Homo sapiens: one gene and its partners. The protein of the gene in region 1 purifies or fractionates together with the protein of each later gene. This does not show direct contact. Each region holds a gene or a part of one and is shown in the gene's direction. Other genes may lie near its edges.

Region 1 (5,332 bases):
TGCATTTTCCTGGTCATACTAACGAAGCTGAGTGCTTCCCACCGAGCACTGGGCACTTGGATACCCTCGTCCCCGAGGGGCCTGTTCAAGTCAGCTGCCCTTTGTGGATTGAGTTCCTATCGATTTGTAGAGGTTCTTTATATATTCTGGAGACAAGCCAACATTTGTTGTGCATAGCAAACATCTCCTACCCTGGGGTTTGCTTTTTCACTCTCTTGATGATATTTTTTCAACGAACAGAAGTTCTTTCTTTTAATCTGGTGCCTTCTAAGAATCTTTTCCTGCAGGACAAGGCTTTCTGTGTCCGTGTAACAAATTTCCCCCACGCCAAGAACATCAGAAATTCTTTTGCATTACCTTCCCAAAGCTTCTAGATCTGATCTGGAGGACAGCCCTTTAGCATGCAGACGCAGCTGAACCTTCCCTTAAATCAGCAAATTCCCGTCAGCTGACTTCCTCACACCAGCCACGTATGCAGCCTTCATTTTCTCCACCTAAAAATGGGCAACCAGAGGCTGGATGTGTCTCAGAAGGCAGGTGCTGTTGGCAGCCCTGGCCTAACACCCATCCTGGCTTAGGTGGACCCCCAAGGGCCTCTGGAGCCCCCTGTGGTCTCTCAGTGCCACCTGAGGGCCTCAAAGACTTTGTTCCCCATGAGGGGTGCTGAGCCTCTGGTCCCACCCGCTGTGTCACTGTGTCCAGAGGCTTCTGACAATTGACACAGTCCGGGGTTAACACAACAGGGACGCATTCCCCCATCCTCCTGGAGACCAGAAGCCCAGCGTCCAGGCATCTCATGAGTCAGCTTCCTCTGGAGGCTTGGTGGGACGCTCCCTGCCTCTTCTAGCTTCTGGTGGCTCCAGTTGTCCTGGGCGTGTGGCTGCGTCACTGCAGCCCCGGCCTCATGGCGACTGTGTTAGTCCGTGTGTGTTGCTGTAACAGCACCAGGCATGGTAATTTATGAAATGATATGTTCACTTCTCACAGTTCTGGGGGCTGGAGAGTCCAAGATCAAGGCACCTGCAGGCTTGGCGTCCGACAAGGGCCCTTCCCTGCTTCCAAGACAGGGCCTGGTTGCCATGTCCTCATGCCCCAGCCCTTTGATAAGGCACTCGGTCATTCCCAGGAGCCTGGCCCCCATAGCTGAATCTCATCCCCCAAAGGCTCTGTTAATGCCACCACAATGGGGATTAGGTTCCAGTGTGGATTTTGGAGGGGACGAATTCAGCCTGTAGCACCTTCTTCTCTTCTCTCTGTGTCTTCTCTTCTGCCTCTTCTAGGTAGAGACACTCACCATTGGATTTAGGGCTCAGCTGTGGATAATCCAAGATGATCTCATTTCCAGATCCTTTCTCCAAACAAGGTCGCGTTCACAGGTTCTGGGGATTAGATGGGGCCACCATTGGCCCAGAGCTGCCCTGGTTCCAGCTGCCTGCAGGTGCCCTGGACCCGGAGCCCCGAGGGTAACCCAAGGGCAGTGAGTGGGCTGGGGCGGGGCAGGGCAGGGTCCTCGTGAGTCTGGCACTCAGTGAAGCTGCGCTGGATGAGGGACCAGCCCCTGGTTCTGCAGTGTTCTGTAACCTGCTCTGCCCCCTTGAGAGCCTCGGCTGTTTTCTCCTGTAACCCATTGTGCCTCCCTTGAGAGCCCCGGCTGTGTCCTCTAACCTGGTGTGCCCCGCGTGAGAGTCCTTGCTGTCCCCACAGAAGGTGCCTTTAATGGAGGCAGGTCCCACCGCATCTGCAGCCGCCGAGTCTCCGACATGGTTGATGGGATGAGCCAGCCGGGATCTCTATTTTATTCCCTTTTGGGATGCTCTGTTGGTGGAATGTCCTGTGTCGTGCTTTAGAGAAATGGTGTTGGCCCAGGTGGTGGGCACTGGCTGGGCATGTGGTTTAACTCTCACTTGGGCCTTGGACAGCCATCTCAGACCCGTATCAGTCTCCGCCACAGCGTCCTTTGCAGAGTCCGGGAGCCCTGTTGGCACCTCCATCCCATGGTGGCCATTCGGTGGCAAAGTTGGTGGCCCTGGCAGCCCCGGCGTCTGTGGCCTGGATACTCAGCCATAGTGCTCTGGAATGTTCCATCCTCCCACCTGCGTCTCCCTGTCATCCTTAATCCTGAGTCTCCCACTCAGAGGGGATCTGCCGTGTGGCCTGGGAGGGTTTTCTCTGAGACTGCCCCGCCTTCTCATCCCTACACCTGAGTGCAGATGGGCTCTGGTGGCCGTCCCCAGAGTGGCCACGCTGGGCGCTGCAAGGACCACACTCTGCAGATGGGGGCCAAGATGTGGTTCCCAGAGGCAGAGGGCACCAGGGGCTGGGTGCACCCTGTTGACCCGAGAAGCTCCTCCGCAGCCATCTCTCTTCTTCTGAGGGCGGAGGGAGGGTGAGTGGAGGTGGCCAGGGCCATGCAGCCCCTGCTCCCCTGCCCCCCTTACCGGAAGGCTCCTTGTGCAGGGCCCCTCCCACCCCATGAGCCTTAGGAGTGTGCAAAGCCTGCCCTGTCCTGCCCAGGTCTGAGGCCATGCGGTTGTGGTGAGTGGCAGGGGTCCCGAGTGGCCCAGTGCAGGATGGCCGGAGGACGCCATGTGAGACGACCAGGATAGAAGTGTGGTGTGCTGGGGACGCTGCCACAGGACTCCACCCTGCCCTCCTCCTCCCACTTCCTTGGGGACTGCACTCAGCCTGGGCTTGGCTCTGGCCTTCAGGGTCCCTGGAGAGCAGGAGCCCGACCTCAGGTCTTCTATGGGGCAGAGCCTCAGCCCAGGCCTGGAGACCCCATCCTAGCGATCCCTCTGGACCAGTGACCTCTCAGGATCAACCAGTGACTCTCAAGAGTGATGACCTCTGGACCAGTGACCCCTCAGGACAGTGACCTCTCAGGACCAGTGACCTCTCTGGACCGGGCACCTCTCAGGATGGTGACCTCTCAGGACCGTGACCTTTCAGGACTGTGACCTCTCTGGACGTGTGTCCTGGGGCGGCCCCGGCCGTGTGCACCTGTCTGGCCTCTGGGTGGGGTGTGCTCCCGAGTGTGCCGTGGGGATGCTGGGCTGGAGCGGCTGATCATCCTGCCTCCTGTGCTGCAGGGGGATGTGCACAGACTCAAAACTGCCGGCTTTGTTCTGATTGGGAGCTCTGACTGCCTGACAGGCGGCCTGGGCTGAGAAGAGTGGGGCGGTTCACAGGGAGAGTCCCGCGGAGCAGGAGTGCCGTGCGATGATAATGAAAAACAGGAACCGTCTGCGCTCAAATGGGCACTGAAATAAGGAGTGGGGGCTGGCGGGGTGGCACGGTGTCCACCCTGGGCATGGCAGGACCTGAGCCACCTTGTTCCTTGGCCCTGTTTAATGGGGAAGCACCTCCTCGGCAGGAGGGCAGGGCTCCAGGTCCTAGAAGGCCCCTTGGTGGGACAGGAGGGCTGGGTGAGCTCCACAGGGGCTCTGTCCACTCCTTCCGCTGTGAGAGTGGCTTTTGCTTCTGGGGCTTCGGGTCGCTGTGGTCTTTGATGTTGCTGTCCCCTTGTCCTCTGGGTCTCCAGCGCCGAGAGCTGTCCAGGCTGAATGCCCAGTGGGCAGCTTGGGGCCAGGACCACACGGCGTGGGCCCAGGAGGCGCCCTGCAGTGGAGACTTTCTCCTCAGCCCTGCTGGCCAGGCGCCTACAAGGTCTCCCTTGGGGCTGTGCCGTGCCTGTGCTTCGGATTTACTGGGGGGCTGCTTCCCCCTGGTCCCGATCCCCTCCGCTCCCTCAGTCAGCGTCCTGGGGCCAGGTCATGATGGAGCACTGGGCGTTGCAGAGGGGCCATCCCAGGGCTTCGGCGTCAAGGTGGAAACTGTGGCCGTGGGACATTGGAGGGTCCATCAGGCCCTCAGGAGCTTTGCCATCTGCAGGCACGAGAGGGTCCTGTTCCGGCAGTGGGGTCTGGCCCTGGGGTTTCCTAAACAGGAGTGGGGTTTAATGACAACAGTCTCCAGGGACTCTGGGCAGGATTGAAGGCTGTGATGGCAGCCGGCCCGAGGTGGAGGGTGCTCCCCCTGGACAGGACTTGGGCGTAAAGGTTCTGAAGAGCCCAGCGGCAGCACACCCAGCTGAGCCTGTGGAGGCCGGGGTATCCGCAGGGGAATCTGCCCATGGAGAGAAGACCAGGGACCGCCAAGGTTGCCCAGCATGCACTCCCACCTGCAGGGCCTGGGACAGCTCCTGTCGCCAGCTGAGAGATGCCTGAATACTGCTGAGCGCCTCGGCCCCCACCCCTCCAACCTGTTTCCCAATCAGCTTGCAACACAGCGTGCCCTTCACAGCTCCCTGGATGCCAGTGCCCTGAGGGCATGGAAGGAAGGGGTTGGTGAGAGGCGTCTGAGCCAGCATGGCCCCTGCCAGGGGCATCCTGCAGTCACAGCACGTTGGATTCCTGGGCAGTGTCTCCAGGGGTAGAGGGAGCAGCTCCCACCCAGGCCCCAGGCCTCCAAATCACCAGGGAACCCATTGTCATCCCTGAACAGGGAGTTCTCCAGGGCACGAGCATCGGCTCCTGCCAGGCAGAAGCACGCGGGGCTCCTGGGAACCTGAGTTAACAGAAGGTTTGGGTTGAGTGTGTGGCGTGCGTGCCTGATGCTCCCAGCCTGGTCACTTCCCAAGGAATGCTTGCCCTCGGGTTCTGGTGGAATCCAGTCGGCTGCCATCAGAGTGTCTTTCTCCGCAGAGACAGGTTCTCCCTCGGGCTGTGCCTGCATGAGGCCATCGGGTGCGAGGGAGATGGGGAGGGGGCTGCACCCCTTCAAGGATGAGGAGACTGAGGCACAAGCAGCTGTCCTACCATGGGCACTTGCCTGCGAGCGAGCTCTGGGGGTCAGCGGGTGCAGCTGGAGAAGCTGCTGGTGGCTTCTCTAGGGCAGGTGGAGCTGTCAGAGGTCACACCCTGGCCTGGTCCAGCCCAGCACAACCCAGGGGGCCTGCAGGACACTTGTGACCAGGACAGAGGTTCTCAGGGAGGCCAGAGCCTGAGCAGGGCCGAGGGCTGGCTCTGAGGTCTCAGGCCCCAGGGAGGGGTGATGAGCTGAGGGGTGGTAGCTCCCACTGACTCCATGGCTCCTGCCTCCAGCTTTGACCCAGCACTGCTGATGATGTGAGCACAGCCTGTCCACCAGCCTCCTCTGCCAGCAAGGCTCAGCCACCCCACAGCCATCCACATGGAGAGCAGTCGTGTAGGCTCTGTCGGCGCCACCCCCGCGTGGGCGTGGGCAGTGAACAAGGGAGCACCGAGGCTGCTGCTACCTTTAAAACAGCAGCTGGCCCTAGTGAGAGAGACCCCAGGCCCTAGTTACAGGCTCC
Region 2 (5,332 bases), on another chromosome or scaffold:
AATACTCTTGGCTGTCAACAGTGTGGGCGACAGAACTGGCTTATCGTTGTCATGGTTGAGGAAACTGATCAAGTGCACTTAGTACTTAAAATTGGGGGAGCTCAGCTGTGTGTGCAGTGAGAGTGCTGGATACACAGGGGCTGTTAAGCCAAAAATAGCTGCAAATATGATGCATTTGGTGCATGCAGACTCAGTTCCAAGTGCTCCATAGTTTATCACCTTATAACAACCCCGCAAGGTAGATTATCTCAGCCTGATACTAGCTGTGTGACCTTAGCAAATTCCTCACCCTCTCTGTGCCTCAGTCTTCTCATCTGTAAAATGGAGATGGTAATGTTGTCTGGCTCCATAGGTTGGGAGTGAGGAGGTGTGAGGCTATATTATGTAAAGCTCTTACTTAGCAAAGCACCTGGCAGGTAGCAGGGTAGCAGACACTCAAGAATCGTTGGCTGGCCGGGCACAGTGGCTCATGCTTATAAGCCTAGCACTTTGGGAGGCCAAGGTAGGAGGATCGCTTGAGGCCAGGACTTCAAGACCAGCCTGAGTAACATAGCAAGACCTCGTCTCTCCAAAAATATTTTTTAAAATAGCAGGGCATGGTGGTGCACACCTGTAGTCCCAGCCGCTTGGGAGGCTGAGGCAGGAGGATCACTTGAGCCCAGGAGTTTAAAGCTGCTGCATTCCATCCTGGGTGATAGAGTGACACCCTGTCTCTAAAAAAGCAAAATAAGGAGAGGACTTGCTGGCTGTTATTATCTTTATCAGTTGAGTCACACAAAAAGTTAAATAACGTTAAGGCACACAAAAAGTTAAAAAAGACTCACAAAAAGTTAAATAAGGTACTCTGTAAGTAAATAAGGTTAAGGCACACAAAACGTTAAATAAGGTACTCTGCAAGTACAGAGCTGGTTGAGGGAACCTTCTGGGGGATGGAAGTGTTCCGCACGCTGATCTGGGCACACCGGTGTATGTGTCTGTACAAATGTGTGCAACTGTATACCTAAGATTTGTGCACTCTACCGTATACAAATGATACCTCGGCTGCTAAGCTGCAGGGTTTCTGTATTAGGGCCCATCTTGGGTCGGCAAGCGGCTTGGCTCAGAGCACAGTCTCTGGAACCAGCCTCCTGTGTTCAAATCCTGTCACTCCTTACTGGCTGCTTGTTCTTGGGCGCCGTACTTCGCCCCTCTGTGCCTGTTTTCCCACCTGCAGCAAGCATAGGGTTATGATGAGTGAGGGAGTATCAGCAAAATGTTTACATGGTCTTGGCACGTGGTTAGCGAGCTGGGGGTGCTTGTTAATTGCCCCGTGGGCCGTGCCAGTAGCAGAGGAGCGTGTGGTCTTGCAGGGCCTCGGAACGCCCCCTCTCCACCCACATCCCCTTACCTCCTGCCCCCAGGGCCTGCGGCGGGAGATCCAGGCGCATGGGCCGCGCCTGGAGGAGGTGCTGGAGCGCGCGGGCGCGCTGGCGTCGCTGCGCAGCCCGGAGGCAGAGGCAGTGCGCCGGGGCCTGGAGCAGCTGCAGAGCGCCTGGGCCGGACTGCGGGAGGCTGCCGAGCGACGGCAGCAGGTGCTGGACGCCGCCTTCCAGGTGGAGCAGTACTACTTCGACGTGGCTGAGGTGGAGGCGTGGCTGGGCGAGCAGGAGCTGCTCATGATGAGTGAGGACAAGGGCAAGGTGCGCCCGAGCTGGGGGTGCGGAGGGCCTGGGGGCGCTGGAGCCGGGGGCCGCCGCTGCCGCCTCATCGTGGGCGCTTTGTGCCCCCAGGACGAACAGAGCACCCTGCAGCTGCTCAAGAAACACCTGCAGCTGGAGCAAGGCGTGGAGAACTACGAGGAAAGCATCGCGCAGCTGTCGCGCCAGTGCCGGGCGCTGCTGGAGATGGGGCACCCGGACAGGTGGGCGGGCGCGTGGCCAGTTCACAGGAATGGTCCAGCAGGACCTGAAGCTTCGCTGTTGGGAGTTGGCGCAGCGCTGGAATTGGACGTTGGGTGGGAGAGGTCCTCCTTGCTGTGTGCTGGAGCCCTCGAATTTGGCAAGTGGGCGGGCCGGAATGGGGGGACACGGCTCAGGGATGGTTGAGAGGGTGGGGCCAGGAGCACCTGGATTTGAGTGTAGTAGTGGGGACCTTGTCGGGGGAGAAAAGAGTAGGCGATGTCTAGGACTGGGGTAGAGAAGAATTTACTCAGGACAGGCAAGGGGCTCTTTCTACTCAGTGTCTGGGAGGACAGAAAAGCCTGTGCTGAGATTGGCTATGGCGGTGGGGCTGGAGACCTCCTGGTGCAGTGGGGTGATGTTGCCTCGTGTAGGCGGATGCTGAGCTCCAGGCCTGGACCAGGGATGGAATCTGTAAGGAGGTACAGAGAGAGACCTCTGTCCAAGTGGGCTCAGAGATTGGGGCTAGAGGTGGGATGCATTGGCTGGGGACCCAACCTGGGAGTCCAGAGTCCCACCGAGGTTCCTGGATAGGAGGGGCGTGAGACTGAGATAGAAACCGGGTGAGGCTGCCGAGGTGGGCGGATCACTTGAGGTCAGGAGTTGGAGACCAGCTTGGCCAACATGGTGAAACCCTGTCTCTACTAAAAATAAAAAATTAGCTGGGCATGGTGGCACGTGCCTGTAGTCCTAGCTACTGGGGAGGCTGAGGCAGGAGAATGGCTTGAACCTGGGTGGCAGAGGTTGCAGTGAGCCGAGATCGCGCCACTGCACTCCAGCCTGGTGACAGAGCAAGACTCCGTCTCAAAAAAAAAAAAAAAAAAAGAAAAGAAAAAAAAAGAAAGGAAACTGGGTGAGGCTGGATAGAGGTGAGCTTATCCATTTAGGGAAGCGGAGCTTTCCCTGCATGCTGAAATGCAGGGCTTTCTGAACCCAAGACTTGCAGAAAACAGAGTCCTGGCCAGGTGTAGTGGCTCACACCTGTAATCTCAACACTGGGAGGCTGAGGCAGGAGGATCGTTTGAGCCCAGGAGTTTGAGAACAGAGGGAACATAGTGAGACCTCATCTCTACAAAGAAATCAAAAAGTTAGCCAGGTGTAGAGTCACGTGCCTGTGGTCCCACTTGGGAGGCTGCAATGGGAGGATTGCTTGAGCATGGGAGGTGGAGGCTGCAGTGAGTTGTGATCACACCACTGCACTCCAGCCTGAGCAACAGAGCAAGACCCTGTCTCCAAAAAAAAAGAAAAAAGAAAAGAAAACAGAGCTCTACCTGGGGACACAGCCGTGTCTGAAGATTCCAAGGAAACACAGCCCTGTCCTGGGGAGGGGGTTTAGGGGGGTCACGCTCTGCCCCAGAAGTCTCAGGGGTCCATCCCTGCCCCTCCATGTCCCCCTTCAGCGAGCAGATCAGCCGGCGGCAGTCTCAGGTGGACCGCCTGTACGTGGCGCTCAAGGAGCTGGGTGAGGAGCGCCGGGTGGCTCTGGAACAGCAGTACTGGCTGTACCAGCTCAGCCGCCAGGTGAGCGAGCTTGAGCACTGGATTGCCGAGAAGGAGGTGGTGGCTGGCTCACCCGAGCTCGGCCAGGACTTTGAGCATGTCTCGGTGAGCATCATTAGTAATAAGTGATACCAGGAGCTACCACTAAGGTTCTCTGGGCCTTAGTTTCCTCATCTGTAGTATGAGGATAATAACAGCACCCGCCTCATGGCTCTGCTGTGAGACAAATGAGTTAATATAACGTAAAGCACTGAGGACCCTGCTTGGCACACATGCTGCCTCACACAGTGTTGGTTATTATTATCAGCTTATTATTTTATTGTTACTTATTGTTATTTTTATTGTTACTGTTTTGTTACTATTCTTGCCAGGTGTTCAGTAAGTGTTAGATATTATTTTTTATGATGATGATGATGATGATGATTATCATTACTCTTACCTGCCACAAAATGGTAGCCTCTGCCAGGTGTGGTGGCTCATGCCTGTAATCCCAACACTTTGGGAGGCCAAGGCAGGTGGATCACTTGAGGTCAGGAGTATGAGACCAGCCTGGCCAACATAGTGAAACCCCGTCTCTACTAAAAACACAAAAAAATCAGCTGGGTGTGGTGGCACATGCCTGTAGTCCTAGCTGTTTGGGAGGCTGAGGCAGGAGAATTGCTTGAACTGGGGAGGTGAAGGTTGCTGTAAGTGGCTATTGAACCACTGCACGCCAACCTGGGCGACAGAGCAAGACTCTGTATCAAAAAGAAAAAAAAACATTGTAGGCTGGAGGGGGCTGGTGTATGCTGCCCCTTTGCTCACTTTGCTGTACCCCCCCCCCCACTTCCTGATGGCAGGTGCTGCAGGAGAAATTCTCAGAGTTTGCCAGCGAGACAGGTATGGCAGGGCGGGAACGGCTGGCAGCTGTGAACCAGATGGTGGATGAGCTGATCGAGTGTGGCCATACAGCAGCGGCCACCATGGCCGAGTGGAAGGACGGACTGAACGAGGCCTGGGCTGAGCTGCTGGAGCTCATGGGCACACGGGCCCAGCTGCTGGCCGCCTCTCGGGAGCTTCATAAGTTCTTCAGTGACGCCCGAGAGCTTCAGGGACAGATTGAGGAGAAGCGGAGGCGGCTGCCCCGCCTGACCACCCCGCCTGAGCCGAGACCCAGTGCCAGTTCCATGCAGCGGACCCTGAGAGCCTTTGAGCATGACCTGCAGCTCCTCGTGTCCCAGGTGGGGCGCCGGTGGCCATCAGGGCAGGTGGGAGGGCCTGGACAGCTGTGGGCAGCAGAGTGGGCAAAAATCAGGCTGTGGAGCAGGTCGAAATTAGGCAGTGGCACAGACAGAAAGCGGACTACAGAACAGGAAGAAATTAGATAATGGAGCAGATAGAAAATGGACTGATGGAATGATATATAGAAATCAGGTATTGGCAGGGAAAAGTGGTACCTTAGAAGGTCTCACAGATATTAAACAGCTTCTGGCTGGGCGTGGTGGCTCCCTTTGGGAGGCCAACGCAGGCGGATCATCTGAGGTCAGGAGTTTAAGACCAGCCTGGTCAACGTGGTGAAACCCCATCTCTACTAAAAATACGAAAATTAGCCAGGTCTGGTGGCGGGCACCTGTAATCCCAGCTACTTGGGAGGCTGAGGCAGGAGAATCACTTGAACCCGGGAGGAGGAGGTTGCAGTGAGCCCAGATCTCGCCATTGCACTCCAGCCTATGTGACAAGAGTGATACTCTGTCTCAAAAAAAAAAAAAAAAAAAAAAGCTTCCAATAGATATTGGGCAGTGGTTCTCCTAAAACTGTGAGTTTTGCCTAAATCCAGATCAAGGGTCTAAAGGGAATTTTGAGAAGTCTGAGAGGAATTTGGCTGTGGTGTAGATAGAAATTAGACGACAGACAAG
Region 3 (5,332 bases), on another chromosome or scaffold:
ATTGTTGTTAATACCAATAATTGTATCACTAGTCAAAGTCACAATCACTTGTGTGAATTTTTTGAACCTGAAATGCAACAGGAATTTAAACTAGATTAAGCTGGAATGAATAGTAGGTTCTTGATTTGGGTACCTGACTTGTAGCTAATTCAACCATAATTTGAATCTAGATTAATAAGGCATTAAGATTAAAATATGAGTTATATTCCATGTCATCACAGTTTATGTTTATCATAATTGAAATGTTCCCTTTTTTAATTACTTGTGATATTACATACATTGAACTTTTTGAAGTTTCACCAACAACAAAAAATTGACATTCAGGTACAGTAGTGATCTCTCTTGATATGGGGGATACATTTCTGTTTATAAAATGGTTATTGAGATAACTTCAAATTAAAAGCATATTTGATAGATACGCTACTGCTCATGTGTGGGAGCCTGGAATTTGGAAGTCATTCTATGCATTGTAAATGGAGTTGTAAATGTTAAGCTGTGTGTATGCACATGCATCCAGACATCCACACAAATATATGGGCAACTGTAACCCAAGTTGGGTGACGTATAATGAAGCAAACATGAACTCTGAGTAATCAGAAAAATCTTAAAAGAGATGGGAAGAAATCCATTTTTTTTTAGTTAGTGATAATAAATTTTAAAACTAATAAAATATTTTAAACTCAGATATATTTTTATTCATTTAGGTATTAAAATTAATAAAATGAAATAGAGCTTTTATTTGTTCTCAGGCAAGTCTGTTACCTAAAATCTGCAAAACATAATTGGGTCGAAGTTAAAAATCTAGCTTGTTTGGACCATAACATACATGTAGAGGAAAATATTTCCTCAAATTTAAGAGAAACTAATTTTCCTAACTAAATTTGTGGGAGTTACTTTGTTGACATTTACTCCGAAACCAGCCATTGGTAAGCATTGTCTTGTGTTTATCTTTACTTTTATATGTGTTCATTTAAATAGGCCTTCTCCATGAGCTTCCATTGCCATAACTATTATATTACATCACAAAGCTTTGTTATGTATTTAGAAAATGCATGTATATTTGTACATTTGAAATTTTCTGGGTTTTTTGTTTTGTTTTTTTTTTAACTTAGAAATGAGGGTGGCCAGGTGTGGTGGCTTATGCCTGTAATCCCAGCACTCTGGGAGGCTGAGGCAGATGGACCACTTGAGGTCAGTTCAAGACCAGCCTGGCCAACATGGTGAAACCCCGTCTCTTCCAAAAGTACAAAAATTAGCCCGGCATGGTGGCATGTGCCTGTAGTCCCACCCGCTTGGACAGCTGAGGCAGGAGAATAGCTTGAACCTGGGAGGTGGAGGTTGCAGTGAGCCGAGATTGTGCCACTGCACTCCAGCCTGGGTGACAGAACAAGACTCCATCTCAAAAAAAAAAAAAAAAAAAAAAAATCAACATACTGCCTCTGACTCTCCACCCTAGTGATTTCAAATGAAAATATTATTTATTTCACTTTAGTCTTTATTCCATTTGACTGATAAAATTGCTTGGATTTTTTCTGACTTTACCTGCACATTTGGGGGATAGACAGAGAAACAGAAAAGATCCTGTATAGCATGCAAGCATTTAGGTGTCCTTCAGATGTTGTTATAGCCAGGTATTTTTCCCTGAATGGTCAGAATAACCTGGCATATATCTGTCCAGAGAAAATCCTATCACCTAGGCTTCAGGAAGGTTAAGTGCTAATTGATATGAAGAGAATTTTTAAAATGTAATAGAAGTTTAAGGAGGAACTAGGCTGTCTGTACCAATGGGACATATTGTCTGTGCTACTTTATGTTATTATTTATGTTGTTTGAATATGTTTTATTGCAACTCTTTTTTGTTGTTTTTTTGATGGAGTCTCGCTCTGTCACCCAGGCTGGAGTGCAGTGGCGCGATCTAGGCTCACTGCAAGCTCCACCTCCCAGGTTCACGCCATTCTCCTGTCTCAGCCTCCCAAGTAGCTGGGACTACAGGCGCCTGCCACCACGCCCAGCTAATTTTTTTTTTTTTTTTTTAGTAGAGACGGGGTTTCACTGTTAGCTAGGATGGTCTCGATTTCCTGACCTTGTGATCCACCCGCCTCGGTCTTCCAAAGTGCTGGGATTGCAGGCGTCAGCCACCGCGCCCGGCCTTGTTGCAACTCTTAAAAAAAAAAAAAAAGCTGGGCGCAGTGGCTTATGCCTGTAATCCTAGCACTTTGGGAGGACAAGGCGGGTGGATCACGAGGTCATATTGAGACCATCCTGCCCAACATGGTGAAACGTCATCTCTACTAAGAATATAAAAGTTAGCTGGGTGTGGTGGTGCACGCCTGTAGTTCCAGTTACTCAGGAGGCTGAGGCAGGAGAATCGCTTGAACCTGGGAGGTGGAGGTTGCAGTGAGCTGAGATCGTGCCACTGCACTCCAGCCTGGCGACAGAGCGAGACTCCGTCTCAAAAAAAATTAAAAAATAAAAAATGAAAAGGATTACGCCTGTAATCCCAGCACTTGGGGAAGCTGAGGCGGGTGGATCACGAGGTCAGGAGATTTAGACCATCCTGGTCAACATGGTGAAACCCCGTCTCTACTAAAATACAAAAAATTATCCAGGCGTGCTGGCGCGTGCCTGTAGTCCCAGCTACTTGGGAGGCTGAAGCAGGAGAATCACTTGAGCCTGGGAGGTGGAGGTTACAGTGAGCCAAGATGGCGCCACTACACTCCAGCCTGGCAACAGAGCATCTGAAACAAAACAAAACATAACAGGCTGAGCGCAGTGGCTCACGCCTGTAATCCCAGCACTTTGGGAGGCCAAGGCAGGAGAATTGCTTGAGCTCAGGAGTTCAAGACCAGCCTAGCTAACATGGCAAAACCTGTCTCTACTAAAAAAAGTACAAAAATTAGCCAGGCGCGGTGGCATGCGCCTGTAATCCCAGTTACTCGGGAGGCTGAGGCACGAAAATCGCTTGAACCCGGGAGGCAGAGGTTGCAGTGAGCCGAGGTCATGGCACTGTACTCTCCAGCCTGGGCAACACAAGGAGACCCTGTCTCAAAAAAGCAAAAACAAAAACAAAAAACTCCAATAGCAATATCTTACATCTCTGTAAACCCTAGGCCTAGTACAGTATCGTGACAATAGTGGGCATATAATAAATATTTGTTGATGATGATGATGGTAAAAGCTGCAATATTAAGTAAATTCAGTGAGAGAATTCATGAAAATTGCAAGTATCTAGTGAATATTGGAAGTAGGATATCTGGGGCATTAGAGTGAGAAGAGAGGATGGAGATAAATAGGAACATGAAAAAGAAGAGAATACTATATATAAGAGAATGAGTTGCTTCTTGATTTTGATGTTACGTATTTTATTTCCCTTTGTGTCACTTAAAAAGTGGGGTACAATTTAATATGCGACAGGGTACACAAAATGCAGCCTTAAGATGTTAACTTTCAAGTCTCAGTTTTATTTGTGGCTTGCGAATGTAGGATGGCATCTCATTTTTTAGATTATATTATCTGTGACATCCTTTAGCTGACTTCTTTTTGCTTGCCAGTCTTAGGCCTGAATGTCTGACTTGAAATATTTCAAGAAGTTGGGAATGGTAGAAGGGATGTGTATGAAATTCTGAGAGTATGGCAATAGATGAGGTACCCTGAGTGATCTTAAACCAATTACTAATACACTTTGAATCATGTATCAGCTTCTGAAGATGTGGAAAGGGAGTAGAAGAATCGCCTTAAAATTAACCTTAAAGAGAATTGGGCTGGGCACCATGCCTCATACCTATAATTCCAGCACTTTGGGAGGCCAAGGTGGGCAGATCCCTTGAGGCCAGGAGTTCAAGACCAGCCTGGGCAACATGGCAAAACCCCTTCTCTACCAAAAATACAAAAATTAGCCGGGTGTGGTGGGTACGTGCCTGTAGTCCCAGCTACTCGGGAGGCTGAGGTAGCAGAATCCCTTGAACCTAGGAGGTGGAGATTGCAGTGAGTCAAGATCGCGCCATTGCACTTCAGCCTGGGTGACAGAATGAGACCTTGTTTCCAAAAAAAAAAAGAGACACAGAGAGAGAATTGATGGCTATAGCCAAGTGCCTCAATCCATCAGTTACTTACTGAAAGTCATTTCTGAGGGGGTTTTGGGATGTTTCTTATTAGTGAAAGGGAACAAGACCTAGATAACATGCATGAAATTTTTTTAAATGAATATTAAATTTTATAATAGAAATTTTGGTAGAAAATAGAGAAGATAAATAAAACATTTTAGCATATGTACATCCTATCCCTAGATTCACAGATACATTATTTTTTCTGTTGGCATATGTTTTGTGATCTACTTTTTCACTTACTGTGTGGTTACTACTTCCCCATGTCGTTAAATAGTCATATATAATTTTTAATGGTTGCATAGACTTTGTTCTAGCCAGAAGATGTACTGTGGTTTGACCAATCCCCTCTTATAGGGCATTTAGGTTATTTTGAGTATTTTCTATCAATACAGCATTGGACATCTGCATAGATAAATCTGTCGACATAATTCTGATTATTTCCTTAGGAGAGAGTGCTAAAAAAAAAAAAAGGACTTGCTGGTCAAACAATGTACATATTTTTAAAGGCTATTGATAGATATAGCTAAATTCCTCTCTAGGAATTCTATATTAAGATAATAATTATTTCACCAGGCATGGTGGCTCATGCCTGTAATCCCAGTACTTTGAGAGGCTGAGGTGAGAGGATCGCTTGAGGCCAGGAGTTCAAGATCCCATCTCTACAAAAAGTAAAAAAAAAAATAGCCAGGCATGGTGGTACGCACACATAGTCACAGCTACTCAGGAGGCTGAGGCAGGAAGATCGCTTGAGCCTAGGAGTTTGAGGTTACAGTGAGCTATGATCATGTCACTTTACTCCAAACTTGGTGACAGAGTGAGACCCTGTCTCAAAATAAAAAAGATTCTTAAAAAGAAAGATAACTGTTAGAATTCTAACTGTAGTCAAATTGTGTCTTACACCATTCTGACTTAACTCTACAGTCAATAGTATGAAACTCAGCTCTGTAAATGGGGAGGAAACGGAAGGTTATTAGTAACTCACGAAGTACATAGTATCCTTTCAGCTAGAAAAGGGGAGCTTAAGGAGTACTATTGCAAATTACCCCAATGTTCTAATTGTTCAAATGCAAATTTTTGTTGATTAGTTTTTATTAACATGAGATAGTGCTGTGTACCCTATATGAAATATATTATGTGATTTTGTTGTAGTGTTTATATTAAAATGAAATTATGTGATTTGAATACTGAATTTTTTGCATATTGAAATGTTTTCCTTTTTTTACTTT
Region 4 (5,332 bases), on another chromosome or scaffold:
AAGCAATTCTCGTGCCTCAGCCTCCCAAGTAGCTGGAACTACAGGAGAGCACCACCACGCCTGGCTAATTTTTTATATTTTTAGTAGAGATGGGGTTTCGCCATGTTGCCAAGGCTGGTCTCAAACTCCTGAGCTCAGGCAATCCACCCGCCTTGGCCTCCCAAAGTGCTAGAATTTCAGGCCTGAGCCACCACACCCAGCCTTGTCTAGGTACTTTAAATCTACATAATCATAAGATGATGGCTGTCTAGATCAGTGTCTAGGTACTTTTAATCTGCCTTGTCTAGGTATTTTTAATCTGCATAATCATAAGATGATGGCTGTCTAGATCAGTGGTTTTTAAAGTGTGGTCCCTGGACCAGCAGCATCACCATCACGTGGGAACTTCTCAGTAATGTAAATTCTTCACGCAATACCCAGTGAACCATAAACTTTGGAATTAAAGCCCAGAAGTCTGTGTTTTATTGAGTCCTCCAGGTGATTCTGTGCATGCTAAAGTGTGAAAATCACTGCTTCATACAGACGACTATTTAAAAAGTCAGCTGTAAGAACACAATTAGACCTAAAGTACCTGCTTCTCCGCTACTCAGGTCACGGTATATTATTCCTTTCCCACCTTGTCCCTATCGTAGATGGGAAGTGATTATAGTGGTGGTCAAGCAAATGACAAGTGTGACAAGCAAATGACAAGTGGGACCAAGCAGCAGCCACCGTAACAACCTCCTCTCTGGCTCCCAAAGCTCTAGTAAGGCTCTGGATTAAAGACAAACTTGAATGCTGCATTTCCAAAGCATGGTGCTCTACTACATGCATCTGAATCACTTGGGAGACTTGTTAAAATGCAGATGTCAGGGCCCCACTCAGGAACTAATGAGCTGGAATCTCTGATGGAGATGCTGAGGAATCTGCATTTCAACATGCACCGCTGGATAATTTTGTTTCTGATGCACGGTAATGGTTGTGGACCACTGAGCTAATGCAGTGCATCTCAGTGATTACTGTCCATCAGAAGCTTGTTAAAAAATATTCTTGAGCACCACCCCCAAAGGTTCTGGTTCAGTAGGTCAAGGGTGGGGCCCAAGAATTTGATTTCTATAATGCTTTTAAGTGAAGCCAATACAGACCACACTTAGAGTAACATGTTCTAATTTTTTTATGAACCAGGAATTAATAAACTGGGCAGATAGTAAAGCATTGCCCACAGAGGTTGAAAGAGACTTTCAGATTCATCGAGTCTAATCTCATCAGATGGTTGAGCTTCTTCCACAAAATCCCCACCAAGTGGGTCTCTTTGAATGCTCTACCAACAAGGATCCCACTACATCAGAGATGAACCATTTACTTAAATCAGATCAATCACCCAACTATCAACTAAGCACTTACTATGTGCAAGTCTCTATGTTAAGTGCTAATGAAGATAAATGAGTTTTCTCAGGGAGTCAGGGAACTGTAACTAAAGAGTACAGCTCTTTTGTTTTCACTTAAATATGTGTCATTATTGTGGAACTATTAAACCACACCATTGTTCATTCTACACACATAATGAAAAAAAAAATCAACAAATTTTTATGATAGTGTGATTCATAGAACTTACTTTCATTAATTTTTGCTTTTATTTTTTTCCCATAGCTGGGCATGGAGCAGCATTATGAACTTGGAGAGTATATAAGAAAGAGATATAGAAAATTCTTGAATGAGTCCTATAAACATGAACAGGCAAGTTGGGGAGCCAAGAGTGGGAACTTTGATCTTTGAAATAATTAAAATAATTCTGCATATATAAAAGTGCTTTGCCTGTTTTCCAAGGAACTTATACAAGTCAGAGGTCTTGTTTACAAATATATTCCTCTTTATGCAAATTTTTGTTCCAAAAAGTTTGTGAATATGAGTAATTTCAAGATTTTATGAACACCTGAATAAATACTTTGGCTTGACAAGTAGCCACTGCTTAATTGATCTCATTTGTCAATTCAACTATTGGCCAACCAGGTTGCTTTGTACCATGATCATAATATTGCTCATTCCTTAACAAGTATTATGATTCTGATGTTAGCACAATGTCTGTAATATTTCACTGTGGGTGTCCTTTCCTTTCTCTAATACCTTGGCAGCTCTGTAGAAAAAAACCTCATGCTCCCTTTACGTTCGCTTCTGCTTTGATTTTCCTACTCTAGGTTTATATTCGAAGCACAGACGTTGACCGGACTTTGATGAGTGCTATGACAAACCTGGCAGCCCTGTTTCCCCCAGAAGGTGTCAGCATCTGGAATCCTATCCTACTCTGGCAGCCCATCCCGGTGCACACAGTTCCTCTTTCTGAAGATCAGGTCAGTATACTGGGAAAACCAGGAGATTTCAGATGGACCTAGAATGAGGAAGGCAGGCTACTCAACAGTTGTGGATTTGGGAGTCTGGACACTCCTTGAGCTGTGCAGTTTTAATTCTTTCTTAAATAAAGATACAAAGGACAATTTAGGACATGGAAAACCCTAGCTAAGAGAGAGTAGGAACCAAATTTCTCTTTGGATCTGTATGATCCACTTTGTTTTGCCACTCTTGCAACTCTTGGCAATTTGCCCCCTCATCGTCATACACAGAGAGAGAGAGAGAGGGAGAGGGAGATAGACAAGTCCCCCAGTGTTCTGCCTTAATTCCCAGGCTTTTGGTGCCCCAAACAGGTTTCTCCACTCTCCAGATTATCCAAAGATATTTATACCACCAAACACTCCTCCACTCATGAAAATCCACATTCCTAGGTAGAGAAAAAAAGATTTGAGTGCATAATCATTGCCTAACATTTTATGTGAATCATTGTGTTACCTTTCATAACAACTCTGAATGGACAATATTCTTGCTCTCCTTTTATAGTGAGGGAAATAAGTGCTTGGAGAGGTTAAATAACAAACAAATTGGTCCAAAGCAACACTGCTGGCAAGCATCACTCTGGGATTAAAACTAGGCCTATTTCATTCCAGAGCAATTTTCTTCCCTATAAAATCATGATTCTCAGACTTAGCTGCATATTAGGATCACGTGGTTTTTTAAAAAAAATCCTGATGCCCAGGGCACTCTCCGTAAGAAATCGGAATGTCTGAGGGTGGACCCAGGCATCAGTGTTTGAAAAATAATCTCCCTCGATGATTCCAGTGGGGAGGCAAGTTTGAGAACCAGTACTATAAACTAAGCTGCCTGAATGGGGCTGTTTGAGAGAAACTCTCAAACGTGTTTACACAGGTTGGGACCGACCAAGCTTTCTTTAATCTTTTCAGAGGAATGGGTATTTTTAAAGTAGCAATAGATAAATCTAACTAATCTTCCAGGTGTGAAACTTAAGGCTATATGAAAGAAATAGTTTGGGACAAAGAATCCCTTCCTAATTTCCCTGCAGTCCCATCATAGGCATGACCATCGCATCTCTTTATGGCTGAAGCTTAGCCTGACTGCTGGACCCAGACTTTTGCCCAGTGACCTCTGGGGTAGGTTACTATCCTCTTTGTCCTGCCAGTACCCCTAGAAATTTGACTTAATTGCTGCATCTAGGGACTTAGGGATTTTTCCCAAATGCTGTGTAGAAAGTCACTGGAGTTAAATCTACTCCAACCATTTTTCTGCTGTTTCTTGAAAAGACAGGATGATTCATTTACATCTCTTTTCCTTCACAGAATCATGAGGGAAGTATTGTGATTACCAGTGTTAAGCATTTGTGAATATTTTATTCCAAAAAGAAAAAAAATCACTTTACCAGCCTTTTCTGCAGAGATAAAGACTGGAGGTCAGGTGCGGTGGCTCATGCCTGTAATCCCAGCACTTTGGAAGGCTGAGGCGGGCAGATCACCTGAGGTCAGGAGTTCGAGACCAGCCTGGCTAACATGGTGAAACCCCATTTCTACTAAAAATACAAATATTAGCTGGGCATGGTGGTGCACGCCTGTAATCCCAGCTACTCAGGAGGCTGAGGCAGGAGAATCACTTAAACCTGGGAGGTGGAGGTTGCAGTGAGCCAAGATCGCACCGTTGCACTCCAGCTTGGGCAACAAGAGCGAAATTCCGTCTCAAAAATAAATAAAAAACAAAACAAAACAAAGACTGGATAGCAGCACCAAAATTTAGCAAAATGTAGACCACAACAGCTATTTAACAATTAATCCTGAATGATAGTAATTAAGTTACACAGAAAGAGAATGCAGGTGCTAGTAGAAGAGGAGGAAAGAAACAGGGAGAGTGAGGGAGAGAAAGAGAGAAGCAAGGAACATTATCTACCTATGGCTTCCATCTATCTGATTCACTAAGGTCAAAAAAATTCTCTCATATCAACTAAGAAATCTAATGAAACCAATCAACACTAGCTTATTCCTAGCATTTAGCTGTGCTGAATGCTGTAGAGAAATAGGAGGCGAAGTTTTTCTAATTTATAGTTTGATGAAAGCAAATTAGCATGTGTGAAATGTGTAGAAGACATTATAAGATGGCGGGCAATAATTTCAAGTACAAGCCACATATGCTGGGTGAAGTCAGAGAATGAGACTTACGTGCAGTTACCACAGGGCCGTCGTTCAGGTCTTCATAAAGAGAGTGAGAACTTGAACCAGACCTCAGAGGAGAGGGAGGAAGGAGAGGAAGGCAGCACAAAAACACGACCATGAGTGAATATGTAGAATGCCAGTTCTTCTGTGCCCAGAGTTCATATTTAGAAAGAGAATGAAAATAAAATTGATTATATTGGACACAGATTAGATAATCCAAATTTAATAGCCAGGAGGAATCTTGAGTTGAAAGAAAGGCAGTGTGATGTTAGAAGGAGGGCTGAATTTGAAGTTGGAAAACCTACATCCAACTACCACTTCAGATATATGACCTTGAGTAACCTCCGTAAACCTCAGTTTCCTTTCTGTAACATGGGAAAATAGCACCCACCTAACTTCTTCTTAGGGATTTGTGAAAGTCAAGTTAGTTAAAAAATGGAAAACACCATAAACTGCAAAATTCTGGACAGATGTCTCGGTGATTATTCTGTTTATTTTCAGCCTGACTCAATTTGTGGATGAAAAAACTAACATCCAGAAAGTAATTAATTAAATTCCAGGCCTTTTAATGAACAGTCTTCTGCTTTTTCTCTTAACAATATAATTTCTCCTATGGAACAATTTGAAAGCCATGCATGCAAATTTAGACTAAAAGCAATGGACACAAAAGAAACCTGTATACATTCTTCGGTATTACGCACATGTGATGAGTGGTGCTTTTGGGCACTTGCCTGACAGTAGCTTGGACAGAAAAGACACTGGAGCCTCAGAGAATAACTATTGAAGCAATTCTGGAATTAAGAAATAAG

The links.
Region 2: the proteins of TPPP (region 1) and SPTBN4 purify together in Homo sapiens (affinity purification with mass spectrometry; one large-scale study listed by BioGRID and IntAct). This does not show direct contact.
Region 3: the proteins of TPPP (region 1) and KLHL24 purify together in Homo sapiens (affinity purification with mass spectrometry; one large-scale study listed by BioGRID and IntAct). This does not show direct contact.
Region 4: the proteins of TPPP (region 1) and ACP3 purify together in Homo sapiens (affinity purification with mass spectrometry; one large-scale study listed by BioGRID and IntAct). This does not show direct contact.

Annotation. Positions count from the first base shown.
Region 1 is NC_000005.10:682,652-687,983, reverse strand, and holds part of TPPP (tubulin polymerization-promoting protein), read left to right. Parts: intron 1-5,332.
Region 2 is NC_000019.10:40,552,747-40,558,078, forward strand, and holds part of SPTBN4 (spectrin beta chain, non-erythrocytic 4), read left to right. Parts: intron 1-1,400; coding exon 1,401-1,679; intron 1,680-1,769; coding exon 1,770-1,900; intron 1,901-3,337; coding exon 3,338-3,542; intron 3,543-4,276; coding exon 4,277-4,657; intron 4,658-5,332.
Region 3 is NC_000003.12:183,644,961-183,650,292, forward strand, and holds part of KLHL24 (kelch-like protein 24), read left to right. Parts: exon of another isoform or gene 1-926; intron 927-5,332. UniProt on the Homo sapiens protein: Necessary to maintain the balance between intermediate filament stability and degradation, a process that is essential for skin integrity.
Region 4 is NC_000003.12:132,330,018-132,335,349, forward strand, and holds part of ACP3 (prostatic acid phosphatase isoform PAP precursor), read left to right. Parts: intron 1-1,629; coding exon 1,630-1,716; intron 1,717-2,174; coding exon 2,175-2,327; intron 2,328-5,332. UniProt on the Homo sapiens protein: A non-specific tyrosine phosphatase that dephosphorylates a diverse number of substrates under acidic conditions (pH 4-6) including alkyl, aryl, and acyl orthophosphate monoesters and phosphorylated proteins.